2 separate regions of the Homo sapiens genome follow, and region 2 is linked to region 1. The links come from fine-mapping of genetic effects on gene expression. A gene starts in region 1. The other region holds a variant in brackets. All regions are shown on one strand. Distances are between the middles of the regions.

Evidence for each region. PIP is the estimated chance that this variant, and not a neighbour inherited with it, causes the effect.
Region 2: its variant is fine-mapped to the expression of FRS2 in whole blood (INTERVAL, PIP 0.95).

Annotation. Positions count from the first base shown.
Region 1 is chr12:69,466,764-69,475,695 of GRCh38, reverse strand. FRS2 (fibroblast growth factor receptor substrate 2) reads right to left here and starts at 5,308. Exons shown (of 9, transcript NM_001278356.2): 1 at 5,166-5,308. RefSeq lists enhancers at 4,915-4,964, 5,136-5,637, 8,308-8,921.
Region 2 is chr12:69,535,416-69,545,028 of GRCh38, reverse strand. The region is part of intron 3 of FRS2 (fibroblast growth factor receptor substrate 2); the gene reads right to left. Among named protein-coding and RNA genes, the nearest start is that of SNORA113, 25 kb to the right of the region's middle. The variant G/C (reference allele first, on the strand shown) is at 5,230.

The DNA of each region.
Region 1 (8,932 bases):
GGAAATGTAAGCTTAGAGAAGTTTAGGGACTCTCCCAAGGTTGAATACCAAGGATTTTGACACGGGTCTATCTAATTCTAGAGTCAGAGGTCCCAGCCATTATCCTAAGTTTCCTCTAATATTCTTCCAGTGGTATAACAATCCACCCTCATCTAGTCACCTTTGTGACCAATGACAACCAAGGAATTTCCAAGACAGCTGGAGGGAGTGAGGGGTGTACTCCCTGGCCATCATTTAGACTGAAGCTAAATGGAACTCCTGACCTTTGCCTCATTAATACCAGGCTTACTGAAACTAAGCCAAACAGCCCAGACAAAGCACACACAAAACCCCCTGCCTCCAACAACACTGACACAGGACTCTTTCGACATTCCCAAGTGCCTGTGATATAGTGGAAAACATATTCCTGAAAAACAAAAGGAATGTATTAATTCTCAAGAAGGAAATAAACACTTCCATGGTAACTCAGTCTAAAAATAATAAACTTGCCCTCAAAAAGTTACAACTCTAAGCCTCATTCTGCAAACTATTATAATCTTTTACACATTAATACTCAAGTTCCCCCTATTTAAATACCTAAACAGAAAACCACACAAAATTCTATAAATTTACAGTTCTTAAACAGTTTCCAAAATAAAATATGTAACTTTCATATGTGTTATCATATAATGGATAAAAGTATCTTATTCTATCCCTCTAATATAATCCAAACATTATAAGCCAAAACTAATCATGTTAATCAAAAGAACTTATAAAATAGAGTTGGAAGAAAAATATGTAATCAAATGCCATTTTCTATAAAAAGCAATATTAACAGCCTTAATGAGATGTAAATATTATCTTTGAATATTCAGAGGTTCTTGATTTTGAAACCAAAATCGATGTCATACACATAAATAAGTGAAATACTGTATCAGAGATTTGCTTCCAACTCCTCACATACCACTTGCCAAACAAATGTCCAAAAGAAACAAGCTAACATAGCTTTTAAGTAACCAAATCTGACACTCTGGATGAAATGAGTCTGAAGTAGTTTGTCCTCCCTGAAACAGGGTAAAGATAGCATAGTATTCTTGCTACCCAGGGCAAGAAAACTGTATTTCCCAATTGGATTTTTAATGATCAGATTCTTTCTACTCCGTGTGAACCTACAGTGTGAAGAAGCAGTGGACATACTATCAAATTCTTTACCCACTGCATAAAATAAATCACTTAGCATATTTCCTTCTGTTTTAAACAGATGCCATTTAAAACAGAAGTTTTTTTTTTCTTTCCCCTCTACATTCTCCCTTGGCACTTTCATCTTCTTACACAGATTCAACCAGTACACCTATTTGTATTATTCACTAAACCCATGTTTAATATATGCCTAGTCCTGACCTCTCCCCTTAACCACAAATCCACATTTCCAAAAGCCTTTGGACATTTCCAGCGTTTGGCAAGTATACAAAAAAGTCAACAAATCCAAAACTGATCTCATTACGTACCTCCTTGCCCGTATTTCTAGTAAGAGTACCACCGTCAACATCTCCGACACTTAAAAAGTGTAATCTTCAGCTGGGCGCAGTGGCTCACACCTGTAATCCCAGCACTTTGGGAGGCTGAGGCAGGCGGATCACGAGGTCAAGAGATCGAGACCATCCTGGTCAACATGGTGAAACCCCGTCTCTACTAAAAATACAAAAGTTAGCTGGGCGTGGTGGTGAGCACCTGTAGTCCCAGCTATTCGGGAAGATGAAGCAGGACAATCACTTGAACCCAGGAGGCGGAGGTTGCAGTGAGCCAAGATCACGCCACCGCACTCCAGCCTGGCAACAAAGCTAGACTCTGTCTCAAAAACAAAAGTGTAATCTTCACCTTCCATCTCCTCCAAACCTGCTCCAAAAACCCCTCCTCCTCGCCACCCACCTACGACATTGAGGTCCTGCAGAGCCTTCACTCTAATTCCATTACCACTGCCCTTGCCCAGTATTTATACTACATTGAAAGTCAGCTTTCCACATCAAATCATTCTGCACACTACTCTATTAGACCTTGGTAACTTCTCATTACCTCCCAAACGTCGAACTTTTTTTCCCCAAATGTCAAACTTCTAAAAGCAGCACTTAAACATGCTCCACAATCCTGCCCCCACTTAAAATTCAAACCTCATCTCTAATTCCCAAAAATGAACAGTATATTCCAGGTAATCTGGTCCACTAACTTTTCTCCAAGTACACAATGAACTTTCCCACCTCCACACTTCTGCTCACATCATTCTCTTTATTTGAAAGGCCTTCTTCACCCACCTACTCCCAATCCATAAATCTTTGTCTTAGAAAAGTCTTATTCTCTGTAACATTAAACTCAGGTTACCAGTTTATTGGGGAGCAACATGATGCAGTAGAAACACACAGGCTTTGGCACCAGACAGATTTGGATTCAAATTGGGGCTGTTACATGCTAGCCACATAGCCCAGGCAAGTAACTTAACATATTTGAGCCTCACTGTCCTCATTATTAAGGTACTTACATATTGCTGTGAAGCTAAGAAAATGCTGTAAACAGCAACTAGCATTAAGTCTGTTCAGTAAATGCTCAATAAACAGTAGCTTCTGAGCTATCTCCACAAATTTCCATTACTTAAGCTAAAAATGAACCCTTTCTTCTTTTGTATAATTTACTCCAAACTTTACCTCAAACCACCCATAAGTATTTACAAATGTTTATGTTGTAAATGTTTACACAAATCTTATATCCCCTTCTAGATTTCAAATTCCTAAAAACCAAAAGTTTAATCTTTATATCCTAAAATGCCTAGTATAGCGCTTTTCATGAAGCACTCAACACCCATCGCCAATGTTAAGTCCCAATTACAAAAAAAATTGTTAGTATGCCTAAAGAATACAACTCAACTCTTCATGATTTCAGAAATTATTACCAAAACATGAAACTCAACTGTTATGGCTATACCTTTATTTGCTCCTTACATAGTTACCTAACATAGCATAGCAAATAGCATGCTATGCATAACATAGCATAACATGCATAGCAAATGCTCAGTGTTTGTTGAATTGACTTGTATAATATAAAAATACAATCAGTATCTGATTTTCCCCAATCACCTTTCTCTGCTCTTAAAACTCTTGAAGTATTTCCCTTAAAAATACATTGTCATACCTGCAAATCTGTAACTACATCTAACTTAACTATTTTTCCAGATTCTCTCAATTCCAATATTCCAATCTTATGCTCTAAATAATTAAGTACTTCACATGTGGAAGAAGCTACAGTTTCTATCTAAATTTAAAAGTTGTGCAAATATGCTGGGGATGGTGGCTCACAACTGTAATCCCAGCACTTTGGAAGGCCGAGATGGGAGGATCACTTGAGCCCAGGAGTTCAAGACCAGCCTGGGCAACATAGTGAAACCTCGGCTCTACAAAAAAAAAAAAAAAAAAAATTAGCCAGGTGTGGTGGTTGGTGCCTATAGTCCTAGCCACTCAGGAGTCTGAGACAGAAGGACTGCTTGAGTCCAGGAGTTGGAGGCTGCAGTGAGCTATGATGGGGCCACTGTGCTGCAGCCTGGGCAGCAGAATGAGGCTGTCTCGAAAAGAAAGAAAAAAGAAAAGAAAGGAAGAGGAAAAAGAAAAGTTGTGCAGCTAATCTCTCCACAATTTTTTCCAAGGACTTTAAAAATCATCTACCCTTTGCCTGTTCAAAATCAACAACCTTGAAATAAATTTTCCTTTGCATAGGAAAAGCTCACTGAACTTGTCACTTCAGTCTATTTTTCCTGATTCATGATACCACCTCCCCTTTCAGGGGTGGGAGGAAAGAGAATGACATAAGTACCCAAAAAACTACAGAATAAACCCTAATCTACACACAAGATGAGAGTTGCAGATAGCGTCACTGGTTTCAAGAAGGTGATTTGTGAATACTTTACGCTGCAAAAACAGTGGCCATCTGCTAATAGCAATAATCTGCAGTAACTGCATTCCCTTATAAAAAGTTTTTAAATCACCATTTATTGTGGAAAACCCATATTTCCTACAAACCTTTCAGCAGTAAAGTTTACTACCTAAAATCTGTTCACTAAACCTACCTACATCACTTTCTCCCCTAGGAAATCCTCAGTTTATCCGAAGTAAACACTTCATGGAATAAGTTTAAACAAAACATCTCTGCCCACCTGTGTGAAACTCTGCATTGCAGCAACAATTTTAACAGTGTAAGGAATCTCTCAAGAAAATCCAAGAACAATTTTTCCTTAAGAAAAATGACAGTTCCAAATATGAAGGTAAACAAACTTTGGGAGAAAGGATATAACTGTCCAACTCTTTAAAATCAATTCGTACAGCCTCTGAATGAACTCATCATACAACTGTGACATCAGATAGCCAAAAGAATTAAGAGTGTAGATTAGAGAAAAGCATCTTTTTTTTTTTAGTATGTCTGCAAAAAAAGGCGGGGGAGGGGGTGTCTAAACTACTGATTTTCCTTAAGCAAGTTTTTTCTTTAAGTTTACTTCAACAACAGCTTCAGCAAGCTTTCAAGTGAGTAAAGATGATACAGAGCATGCTGGTGCCACAGCGACCTACGTATCCAGGACCGGTTCCGAGCCCAGTCCAAATCGATCCCGGACAACCCTGAAGCAAATCTGGATGAAAAGCCCTGCAAAAGATCCCTGGCATGTACAGGCAGCGCCCCACCCTGGAGGGAAAAGACGACACCCCTGGGACCCGGGTTAATTACTGACCCCAGGACAGACCCAGAGGAGGCGAAAAGTCGGGAACTGGAGCCCAAGATTGAGTCTGGTGTCCAGCTACTACCCCAGGCCGGACACAGAATACCAAACTAGGGAGCGGCGAGGTTTGGGGCAGCACACATGAGGGGGGTCGGACGGACGAACAGAGGCCCAGCCCATCCCCACTCTCGAGTCCCAACAGCAACAACAGCTCTGGGAACCCCCTCCCTGGCTCCGCCCCGCCCACCCCATGGACCCACAGCCAGCTCTTCCCGTCCCGCTGGCCCGGAGAAGTCCGCGGCGGTCGACAATCCCCTTCCCCGGACGCCGGCAGCCGAGCCCTCAGCCCGGATCCCGAAGCGGGCAGCGGGGGCACGAGAACGCCAGCTCCGACGCGGGCCCGCGGCCGTCCCAGTCCGTTTCCCTAGCCACTCACCGTCCGCCCAGGTGCTGAGAGGGAGCAGGGCGCGGGTCGGCGGGCGCGAACCCCCAGACTCCGACCCGCGCTGGAGCCCCTACTTGGAGCAGATCGAGTCTCAGCCGCTGTGCCTACAAGGCCTCTCTCCGGCCCGAATCTTGGAAAAGCACTTCCGGGGGAGCGGGGGAGGGAAGGGTTTTGGCACCGGAACTGCTCTCAGCCCGGAGCTGCCAGGGCCTCCAGGGCGGGGCGGGGCCTCTCTCGCCGGGCGCCCACAGATCAGCCTCTGGGCTCCTAACTAACCCTTTCCGCCCCGCGCCTCCTCGATTCCCCGGCTACTGCTGCACCCTTTGCTTTAACTGCTGTTTGAGTTGTTTTACTCCAGCCAGCTAATTTTACAAATAAGGAAACCGAGGCTCGGAGAATTAGGTGCAAGAATCCAGTGCCTACACCCGGCCTCCCGACTCCCTTCAGTGTACTCTACGCTCCAATCTGCCTCCTTTAAAAAATAATGATAATAGTTAACATTTATTGAACGCTTACTACGTGGTAGGCACTGTATTAAGTCCCTTCGGGTGCATTAACTTATTTAATCATCCCCAAACTCCTTGGGGTTGGTGCTATTATCTACGTCTTGCAGGGGAGAAAAACGGTCAAAGATACCAAACCCAATCTCACAAATGTTGGTTGATTTTAATTCACGTGTGTATAAATCTCATCTACCTATACCAAGATTTTGAAATTATTTAAAAACAGGGCTCAAACTATATTCCTATATTCTGTCATCACTGGTGACTTCAACAGAGGCGAGAGCTGGGGTTGGGGGGTTGGGGGGGTTGGGGTGGGGATCTGGAATCTTTTTGCTTGTCTCCTTTTATTTACTTTTATTTTTTCACCCTGGCAAGTTATAAAATCATCTCTGCATTGTAGGAATCCAAAATGATAATGCATGATAAACATTTCAGAATGTCTGGCATTGGATAAAAGTTAACGATTCTTATACCTCATCAGCAATAGGCAATAGAAAAGATTAGTTAAGGAAATAAGAAAGAGTAGGGGTTGGCCGGGCGCGGTGGCTCACGCCTGTAATCCCAGCACTTTGGGAGGCCGAGGCGGGTGGATCATGAGGTCAGGAGATCGAGACCATCCTGGCTAACAAGGTGAAACCCCGTCTCTACTAAAAATACAAAAAATTAGCCGGGCGCGGTGGCGGGCGCCTGTAGTCCCAGCTACTCGGGAGGCTGAGGCAGGAGAATGGCGTGAACCCGGGAAGCGGAGCTTGCAGTGAGCCGAGATTGCGCCACTGCAGTCCGCAGTCCGGCCTGGGCGACAGAGCGAGACTCCGTCTCAAAAAAAAAAAAAAAAAAAAAAAGAAAGAGTAGGGGTTTTTACAACTGGAAAAATACAGGTGCTTGTGAAGCTCCATGCAGTGATAATATGAGGACCCACAGAGTTACATACCAGACAGGGAAAAGGGATGGAAAGGAGGAGGGCGTGGGATTCCTCAGCCACAAAATCAGAAAGGCACCAGATATCTGAGGCAGATTCTGTATCTGGGATGCAGGGAAAGAAAAAAAAGCCTCTTAGCAATGCATACTATCTGCAAAACAAATGTACTAACATCTCTTGAAACTGGGGGGGGGGGGGGTGGCGGGGAAGATTTTTAAATGTTTCTACTATGAAAGGCAGGGGAAAGGAAAAAAGTTGAAAACCCATTATTACAAATTTAAGATGCAAACAATGCCACTGCTCTTGGCTTTATTTACAGGGCTTTCTTACTTTATTTTTGTGATCGCAGAAGTGTTGGCAAATACTTCCGTAATACTCAAATTCAAGCAGCCTTTTGTGCCTCAGAGTGTGAAGAAGTAAAAAACAGCGTGGGTTGGCAGGACTCACCGACATCTCTTTTTACTCAAGGCCTAAAGGGATAGTGAGAGGAATCCTGAATCACAGATATTATCAGGCTCTGTGTGGGATGCAGAGGTGCTAGAGGTTAGTCATTTAATCTGGTCATCTAACTGGTAAATGGAGCCGCCTGGGTTTGAATTTGCAGACCATATTCTCAGATGCTTTTCACCACTATCCCAGTGGTTCTCAAATTTGAGAGTGCATCAGAACCACCTAAAGGGCTTGTTAAAACAGATTGCTGGGCCCCACCCCTAGAAGTCCCTGGACTAAGCCTCTCAACATCATCTGTGAACTTGTTACAGATGCACATTACTGGGTCCCGCCCCAGATCTTATGAATCAGAAGCTCTGGGGTGGGACCCAGCAATCTGTGTTTTAACAGGCCCTCCAGGAGATTCTGATATACTGTCAAGTTTAAGAACCACTGCATAAGATATTAAGAACTAATATCTTGTCTTCCACATATTCCTCTTTTTTTCTAATTTTTTCCAACAGGGATAACTCTTACCGGAGCAAAAGTTCTTGCCGTTGAATTAAATGACCTATTGAAGGATTTTTATTCATGTTTTGCTCTCAGTGAAAGAAGATGAGGCTAGAAAAAAAATTACTATAATGGAGGATTCATTTTGATTACTTTAAATTTGTACTGAAATGTAACCAGATAATACTGGGTTGGGGGTGGAACTAATATTATTTGGGAATTACTCTATGCCAAGGCTTTACACGCGTTTTCTAAATTAATCTTCACTACATTGCTATGAGGTTTTATGGTCTTAATTTTAGAGATGAGGATAACTGAGACTTAGGTGAAGTAATTGACTTAAGGCCACATTCTTGTTAAGGGGCAGAATCAGGATTGTGCAAAGATCCCTCTAATTCCAAAACTCATGTTCTTTCCACTTCGTGGCTGGAGCCTGGAGAACCAAATTCCACTGTGGGCTCCACTGCCCCAGCTATGCAACATTGATTAAGCGATTTAATCTCTATTTCGATTTCTCCATCTATAAATAATGTTATCATAAATCTGCCCCACCCACACTGGAATGTCAGAACAAATGAGGAAATGAAAGTGTAAGCACTTTCAGCTTTTTAAAGAAAAACAGTAAAAAGGCAAGTTATTAAGGCATTGTATGTTTAGGCAAGTGTTGCTGTGTGATTCTGGACGGTGAAGTCTTTCCCAATTATCTCCTGATTCATAAAGAAGAGTGCCAAAGAAAAAGTTGTTTGACTTCATTTACCAGTGTCTCCTGGAGGTAGAAGATGACAGAGGATTGTATGCATCTCTTGCAAAAATTACAAGCAATCTCTCACCAGGCTCATTCGGCTCCAGGTTGTTGCCAAATTGCTGGCCCATCCTCATCTTAGAGATGTCTTTTCTCCTAACCCTTTTCTTCTGTCCATTCCAGGCATCCCTCTACCCGCCTGCCTCTACCCACTAGGAAAGACTTAAAATTCCTTTTACTTTATTATGTAGAAGGATTTAACTCTCAATCCTCATCTCAGGCCAGACTCCAGGCCACCTTTATTGACACAATTACCATGTTGTGCAATTCCAGGGGGTGCTATTCACAAAGAATACAACATGAATGATGCTCAAGAGGTGACAAACACAAATGATGCCCCCTGGAACTGTGCAAGGCTGTGGCCCTGTCTATGCATAGCTCCTACCCCCAAAATCCATTAAGGTGTTTTGTTAAACAAAAGAGCCATCTACTTGGGTGTCCACCCTTTGCCAAGCTTTGAAATAATGGGGTTCTTTGATTTTGTTTGTTGGTTTAATGCAGATCTGATCCTAACCACACAGCTTAAGTTCTAACTTCCACACTCTACTGTGACACTTTTCACTCTTTTCTGTGACATTGTTGCCTATCTCCCCAC
Region 2 (9,613 bases), 69 kb before region 1:
TTCATATTGTTGTTAGATGAAAATGCTGACTCTTCAGGGTTTTCTATGTACAGGATCATATCATCTATAAACAGAGACCACTTTACTTCTTTCCAATTTGGATGCCTTTTCTTTTTCTTGCCTAATTGCTCTGGATGGAATATCCAGTATGATATTTAATAGAATTGGTGAAAGTGGGAATTCTTGCCTTGTTCCTGATCTTAGAGGAAAATCTTTTCAGTCTTTCACCACTGAATATGACATTCACTGTATTTTTCATATATGGCTTTTACTACGTTGAAATAGTTTCCTTTTATTTATTTATTTATTATTAATTTTTTTTCCGAGATGGAGTCTTGCTGTCACCCAGGCTGGAATGCAGTGGCATGATCTCGGCTCACTGCAACCCCCTCCTCCCGGGTTCAAGTGATTCTCCTGCCTCAGCCTCCTGAGTAATTGGAATTACAGGTGCGCACCACTATGCCCAGCTAATTTTTACATTTTTAGTAGAGATGGGGTTTCACCATGTTGGCCAGGCTGGTATCAAACTCCTGATCTCAAGTGACTCACCCACCTCAGCCTCCTCAAAGTGCTAAAATTACAGACATGAACCACTGCACCTGGCTCCTTTTACTTCTAGTTTTAGTGTTTTTTTAAATCATGAAAGAATGCTGAATTTTGTCAAATGTTTTTTCTGCATCAATTGACACAATCATGTGGTTTTCTCCCATTCATTCTTTTAATGTGTATATTACATTGAACAATTTTCATATGTTGAACCATCCCTGCATTCCAGGAATAAGACGCACTTGATCATAGTATATAATCCCACTGATATGCTGCTGAATTTGGTTTTGTTGAGGATTTTTACATCAATGTTTATGATTCAATTGCATTTTTAAGAAGTTTTCTGTTAAGTTCCAGTACTCTTAAAAAAAAAAAAAAGAAAGCCTCCCCACCCCCCCGACCCTGCCCACAAAATGAGACAGAGATAAACTCAATGGCTGAGCTAGACAGGACACCCATTTGTCATTTTTTGTCCACTTCAAAGTGGTTCACAATTTATCCTGACAAAGGCCTGCAATGGCTCCCCCTATTCCTCTGAGAATAAAAATTAAGGATTTTTCAATGGTCTCTATGAGATCCTAATTTTTTAGTATCATTTTCTGCCTCTCCTGTTCCACTACTGATCATGTACCTTAAAATTCTTCTCTCTCCATACTCTGCTCCAGCCACAGTGGCCTCCTTGCTGTTTCTAGAATACACTAATTATGTTCCTATCTCAGGTCCTTTGCAACTACTGTTCTTTGTACCTGGAATGCTTTTCTATCTGGTATCAGCATAGCTTGCTCCTTCACTTGCTTCAGGTTTTTGCTCACAAATCAATTTATTGAAGAATTTTCCTGAGCACACTACATATGAAATAGATAAACCCTTACCCACTAGCCCATGATGCTACACCCTTTTCCTCTTTCCCTACTACATCATTCTCCAAATGACTTACCACCAAGTGGCATACTACATATTGACTTGTTTTTTTATTCCCTAGCTCTTCACTCCAATGCCACCACAAAACGTAAACTCCATAGTGACAAAGATTTTGTTTTGTTCAACGAAATATCCTTGGTGCCTGAAGAATGCCAGACAGATATTAAATGCTTAATAAGTTTTAGTTGAATGAATAATCTCAGATATTGTTTAAAAATAGCAACATAAGTATTCATAAAATTTGTTCCTGAATTTCTGCAATGTGCAAACATATCAATAAAACTACAACCAAATGCTTTTACATTTTTACTTATTAACATATGTTACTTAATAGTTACTTATTGAGATGACTTGTAAAAATGGGGCTCAAAATTATCACTTAGATTTGTCTGTAAACTGACAGCTATCTCATGAAAAATATGGAATTTAAGATACAGTATCACAAAATTTCTTTTAGAAGCAATGCTACCATGTTGTTATCAATGTGAGCAAGTATACTCATAAGACTGAGGTAGTACCTGATGTTTTCCTTTTTGTACTATAGATTCAAAAACTGTCATTTGCATTATAGTTATTATAGCAGATGTAACTCCTGAAGACACTATCTAGGTAAGTTAACTGCCTAAGAGTCATTATCCAAGCCACATTATTTCCTCCAAGCTAGCTCATTCTTTGACGTTTTGCAGTCCTGGGATGAGCCTGGGTGAAGGTGAAGATACTCTAGGATTGAAACAACTGTTTATATTGGATTTCTCATCCTACAGCTTTTCCTAAGCTCTTTTAATTTCTAACATTAAAAGGTACTTAATATTAACTAGAATTTACTTTGAATATACTTGAACTATCTGCCATATGCAATTCCAACACCAACATCTTTGGTCTACTGAGTTATTTCAGCGAAAATAGAAACATGGTTACATATGGTTGGAAGGTACAAGTTTGGAACATCACAGACCAATGAAATAATGGTTTAGCTACAAACAATATTAGTTTAAATATTTTCTTTCTTTACATAACCTGATTCATTAAAAATCTGTTTGAAAAAATAAAGAATTTTAGAGCTAGTCTTTTTTCTTCTTTATACTTTTTTCCTGCATACTTTAAATAACCTCTAGATTACTTACAAATGCTATCTAAATAGTTGTTATGCTGTATTTTGTAATATTTTTTATACTGCTTTCTATTTCAAATAATTTCAATCTGTGGCTGATTGAATTTGCAGGTGTGGAACCTATGGATACGAACGACCAACTATAAATCAAAGACAAAGGCATCATGAAGTAAGGTTTTAAATTCCTCTAGTTGATAAGGCTGAACCTGTTTAAGATTGGGTCTGACAGCACGCACATTTTCACTTTTTAATTAGAATGCTGCAAATTAATATGTTTGTTATACTAAGTATGTCTGTCAGTAAAGAAAAATATTCAGAACATAACCCCCCGCCACCTATATCTGGTTGTAGAGGCAATAAATGCTCTTAATATATGGCCCTGATAATATCTGCTTTAATAATAAAAAGATAATAAAATCATCTTTCGAGTGTGTGAGGAAAAATTATTCTGAAAATGGAGAAATAACTTATTTGAAACCAGTATCTCCCTTTAAATTATAAAAAATTTGTTAGAATTACATCAAAGAATAAGAAGACTTTTTACATAAAGTTATTAGATTTATATCAAAACTACTTCCCCTGAATTACAATAATACAGTGTTACTTTTTTTTTTTTTTTTTTTTTTGAGACAGGGTCTCACCCTGTCGCCCAGGTTGGAGTGCAGTGGTGCAATCTCGGCTCACTGCAACCTCCACCTCCAGGGCTCAAGTGACCATCCTGCCTCAGTCTCCCGAGTAGCTGGGACTACAGACATATGCCACCGCATGTGGCTAATTTTTGTATTTTTAATAGTGAAGGAGTTTCGCCATGTTGCCAGGCTGGTCTCAAACTCCCAGGCTCAAGTGATCCACTTGCCTCAGCTTCCTAAAGTACTAGGATTACAGGTGTGAGCCACTGCACCTGGCCCAGTGTTACTTTTGTACCAGTAACTATACTAGAATAGACTAACTGGGCCTAATAATATTAATGCTATATTCTTTATTTTTACAGAGTAGGCCAAACACACATACACACGCTTCCTTCAGTTAAATTATACATTCTAAGGTACAGTGTCAGTATTTTCATAAGAATTTTGTTTACCCTGAAGTTTAAAAATTTGAAATATTAAAGAAGTTAAGATTTTAATAAACACAACTTTCTACCATTTGTGTGAGTAGGCCTTCAGATGGCAGCAAATGCAACATAATAAATGTTGGGCCTGTTTGTAAGAACTGGTTATCTGATATCCTCCTTTACTAAATTTTTTAAAACATGGGTTGCTCCCGGGGAAATATGCATTCAAGAGTGGGATGCGATCTAAAATCTAATAAAAGTTGCAAAGTATGTGACTTCTAGGTTTAAAAAAATTCTTGAGGGACTCAGTTTTGTGGTTTTTTAAAAAAACAAACTTCATTACATTTAGTCATCATGTCTCTTAAGGATCCTCTTGGCAGTAATGGTTTTTCAGATTTTTCTTGTTTTTGATAATCCTGACCATTTTCAGGAGCACCTGTAAAGTATTTTGTAGAATGCCTCTCCTCTCTTGGAATTTGATGCTTTTCTCATAATTAGACTGGGAGTATGGGATTTGGACAGGAGGATCACAGAGATAAAGTGCCACTTTTATCACAACATAGCCCTTGAAACACACTATCAACATGACTTATCACTGTTGATGTTACCCCTGACAACCTACCTGGCTGTCAGGTTTCTCCACTGTGAAGTTACTTCTCCCCGAACTCTTCTGCACTTCTTGGAAGTACTGTACTTCTTGGAAGAAAGGCATGCACAGCCCACACTTAAGGATTAGGGAGTTGTGTTTCACCATGAGGAAAGTGGAGTATTGACATACATTATTTGGAGTTCTTCTGTACAGATTTGTCTCTTCTCCATTTACTTATTTATTCAATCATTTATTCATTTATTCAATCATTTATTCATACCAGTATCAGCCCGTGGATATTTATTTTATACTCTGAGTTATAATTCAATACTACTTTATACTTTACTTATTTTCTTTTTCAAATTATTCCAACTTTGATCACTGTTAGCTCTTTTAGGTGACTCCTATGCCCCTTTGACATAGTCCCATTTTGTGGGTTTTTTGTTAAAGCCCTTCTTTACTTTTTTTTTTTGGCACTACAAGATGTTCTAAGCTGATCTTGTCTATTTTGTTATTTTTATTTTTTAATTTTTTTTAATTTTATTTATTTTTTTTGAGATGGAGTCTCGCTTTGTCGTCCAGGCTGGAGTGCAGTGGAGCCATCTCGGCTCACTGCAAGCTCTGCCTCCTGGGTTCATGTCACTCCTCTGCCTCAGCCTCCCTAGTAGCTGGAACTACAGGCGCGCACCACCACACCCAGCTAATTTTTTGTATTTTTAGTAGAGACGAGGTTTCACTGTGTTAGCCAGGATGGTCTCAATCTCCTGACATCATGATCCACCCGCCTCGGCCTCCCAAAGTGCTGGGATTACAGGCGTGAGCCACCACACCCAGTGTTTATTTTTATTTTTTTGAGACGGAGTCCCGCACTGTCGCCCAGGCTGGAGTGCAGTGGCACAATCTCGGCTCACTGCAACCTCCACCTCCTGGGTTCAAGTGATTCTCCTCCCTGAGCCTCCCGAGTAGCTGGGATTACAGGCGCCCGCCACCCTGCCCAGCTAATTTTTT[G/C]TATTTTTAGTAGAGACGGGGTTTCACCATGTTGGCCAGGCTGGTCTCGAACTCCTGACCTCGTGATTTGCCCGCCTTGGCCTCCCAAAGTGGATCTTGTCTATTTCTTGCCCTAGTCCTAGATTAAGCCATTTCTCCAAGGAACCCTGGTCCTTTTTAAAGGAGAAGGGTACAGATTCAGCATCCCTAACTGGAAAATTCTGAGAATTTTTGAGCACCAACATGACACCACAGGTGGAAAATTTCACACCTGACCTCACATGATGCGTGCACAAAATTATTTAAAATATTGTATAAATCACCTTCAGGCTATGTGTAAAGGCATATATGAAACATAAATTTTGTGTTTAGACTTGAGTCCCATCCCCAAGATATCTCATTATGTATATGCAAATACTTTGAAATCCAAAAAACCCCCTGAAATCCAACTGGGCACGGTGCTCACACCTGTAATCCCAGCACTTTGGGAGGCCAAGGTGGGCAGATCAAGAGGCCAGGAGTTCAAGACCAGCCTGGCCAGCATGGTGAAACCCCCATCTCTACTAAAAATACAAAAAATTTGCCAGGCATGGTGATGTGTGCCTGTAATCCCAGCTACTCGGGAGGCTGAGGCAGGAGAATCACTTGAACCTAGGAGGCAGAGGTTGCAGTGAGCTGAGATCATGCCACTGCACTCCAGCCTGGGCAACAGAGTGAGACTCTGTCTCAAAACAAAACAAAACAAAAACCTTGAAATCCAAAACACATCTGATCCCAAGCATTTAGGATAAGGATAAGGATAAGGATAATCAACTTGTATTAGAAACCAAGATTTGGGTTCTTGGTGTGCTCTTGCTACCGGGGTGTCATGGCATCTAGGAGGGCCTCTGTGTAACTAAATGTTATGTTATTTTGTGGAGAATTTGCATAACAAAATATAGAAATAAACTCATGGAGAATAGACTACGACTATGAAGTTGAAAGATTAATATAATTATAGATAGGGTATTATCACTTTTTATGAATGTGTTTTGAAAATAATGCATCTGAATAATATAAGGGAACCTAAATTTTTAAAAATATAAACTTAACACATGCCATTTTTGTTGCAAAGAGAAAAAGGTGACAAATGTATAATGTGAGGAATAAAAGAGGAAGTCCAATAGAATCCATCTTAATTCAAATGGACATGAAGTTAGTTGGATAAGGCAGGAAATTAAAACACACATACCACCCCCACACACACTCCTTACCTTAAACATTTTATTTTAGCTTAAACATATAAAAAGGCATGAATCATTTTATTTTAGCTTAAACATATAAAAAGGCATGAATCATTTTATTTTAGCTTAAACATATAAAAAGGCATGAATTTACCAAACTTAAGGCCAGGGCCTTTTTTTGTTAATGGGAGACCGCCGATTAGCATTCTGTATTATGTTTCTCATACAAACCTTACGTAAGTTGTATGTTATTTGAAATGGATCAAGGAATTCTATTTCTAGCAACATGGTAGGTTAGATGTCCAGACTGGCTCTACTGCTGGAATCTGCAATGCTTTATATATATATGTATATATATATATAATCTGCAATGCTATATATATATATATATATATATATAAAATTTGTTTTTTTAATTTTATTATTAAACATTTTCCTATTTTGGCACAAATGTAAAAAGCTACGAAAGGTGGCTCTTGACTTTAAGGTAATTTCATAATGCTGCTTAGAAAACTGCAGACTGCGGGAGACAGACTATATAGATCAAGACTGCCTTCCATACAGTTGCAAATCCCAAAATCCACAAAGTACAAATGAATGAGCAGTAAACCTACCTTGCAGAAGATGACAGCAAGTAAACTTGCCTGCTTGATCTTGATGATGGTAGAAAGAAGAAAATCTCCTGCAAGAATTTATAACTATAAGCCAGCTCTTAAATGAGTTTGTGGAGACGAAAAAGGATGAAAAGGCATAAGTAACATGAAAAATAGACTATATGTCTAATTAGAGTTATAGAAGGAGAAAATAAGAGGCATTATTCAAAGAGATAATGGTTAAGAATTTTCCACAATTATTCAAAGACATTATTATTATCCTCAGATCCAGGAAGCCCAAAGAATCCCAAGTGGGATTACAAAAAATAAAATGATGGAATGAAAAAAATAACGCCCTCAATACATTATACAAAACTGCAAAACACTAAATGGGAAGGAAAAAAAAAGGCTTAACACAGCCAAATAAAAGGGTTATTACTTACAAAGGAAGGGCAATTAAGACTTTTCAACAGCAATACTAGCAGTCAAAGTACTGGAATAATGTCTTCAATATCATGAGAAAACAGAATTCTACACACAGAGAAACTACCTTTCAAGAATGAAGATGAAATAAAGACATCTTTAAACAAAGAAAAAAGTGTCTGTTTCACCAAAGGATCTTCACTAAAGGAAATTCTAAAGAACGTACCTCAGGTAAAAAAAAAAATTATCATAGAAGAAAGGTCTCAGATCCAAAAAGGAACAATAAGCCAAGAAAACAGTAATTAGGTAAATAAATTTAAACAAAGGTTTACTACCTAAAACAGTAATTTGTCTAAAATTCTGTATGTGTGCATAAGAAGAATATGCCAAAACTAAGATAACAGACAACACTGTTACAGGTTGGGAGGAGGACAACCAGAGCATGCTAAGTTACTACATTATTCAGGAATAGGTTAAAGATACTGATTAATTGGACTTTCCTAAGAAAAGCATGTTAAAATAGCCAGAGCAACCACTAAAAGAATAAATAATATATTAATTATAAACAAGTATACATGCATGCAAGGTATGGAGAGGAGATGGAATGAGACAAATATATATGTCCAACTCAACACAAAAGACTGGCAAGAATGAGAGGAAGAATTGGATAAATAGAAAAACCACAGAAGGGGACAGAAATACACGTAAATCAGAGCTGGGCACGGTGGCTTACATCTGTAATTCCAACACTTTGGGAGGCTGAGGCAGTAGGAACACTTGAGTCCAGGAATTCAAGACCAACTTAAGCAACATAGTGGGATAACATCTCTAAAAAATTAAAAAATCAGCCCAGCACAGTAGCGCATGCCTGTGGTCCCAGCTACTTGAGAGGCTGAGGTGGGAGGATCGTTGAGTCCAGCAGATCGAGGCTAAAGGATCGTGCCACTGCACTCCAGCCTGGGCAACAGAGTGAGATCTTGTCTCAAAAAAGAAAAAAAAAAATTAAAAAAAAAAAAACTAAATCTATCGGTAACACAATTGACTAAAGTTCTCCAGTTAAAAAATAAAGATTGTCATTCAGAACAAAAATAAAACTCAACCTTATTCTATTTACAAAACTCCAATCAAAATACATGAAAAACTAAAGAATGAAAATACTGGCCGGGTGCGGGGACTCACGCCTGTAATCCCAGCACTTTGGGAGGCTGAGGCGGGCGATCACCTGAGGTCAGGAATTCGAGACTGGCCTGGCCAAAATGGGAAACCCCATCTCTACTTAAAAAACAGAAATTAGCCAGGCATGGTGGTGCACACACGTAATCCCAGCTACTCAGAAGGTTGAGGCACGAGAATTCCTTGAACCCAGGAGATGGAGGTTGCAGTGAGCTGAGATCATGCCACTACACTCCAGCCTGGGTAACAGAGTAAGACTTCGTCTCCAAAAAAAAAAAAAAAAAAAAAAAAAAAAAAAAAAAAAAAAGAATGAAAATACTACAGTAACCAAAAGAAAACTATACTAGCTATATTAATCCAAGAAAACAGCAATAACAACAATTAAAAAAAAACTGTAAGGCTAAAAGTGTGTTCAGATAGAGGGCCCTTTCATAATGATAAAAATTCAATTCAACAAACAGATAAAACAATTCTAATTCTAAATTGTTTAATTATTTTGGCTTATTATTAATGTACTTAATAGCATACATTCAAAATAAATAAAGCAAAAATTAACACATCTATAAGGAGAAACTGACAAACCCATAGCCATGGTGAGAGACATTAATTACCATGTCTTTCTTACTAGAGAAACTCATAAATCAGTCCCCAAATAAAACTAAACCCGAATCCAAAACAAAACCAAGACAGAGAAGATATGAAGAGAACAATTAACAAGTTCTTAGACATAAATATAACACTGTACTTAATAACCGAAAAAGCTGCATTCTTTCTAAATACACATGGAACATTTATAAAAATTAGCCATATTCTAGGTGGGAGGATTGCTTGAGCCCAAGAGGTCAAATTATTTGAATCCTTTCATTTCCCTCCATATTTTATAAATTAATCACTTAACAGCAATCATTTCAAAGCAAAGAGACTATCTGATTATGAAAAATAATATGATGCTCATGTAATACAGGGCTGCCACTGTTCAAGCTACTTCACATC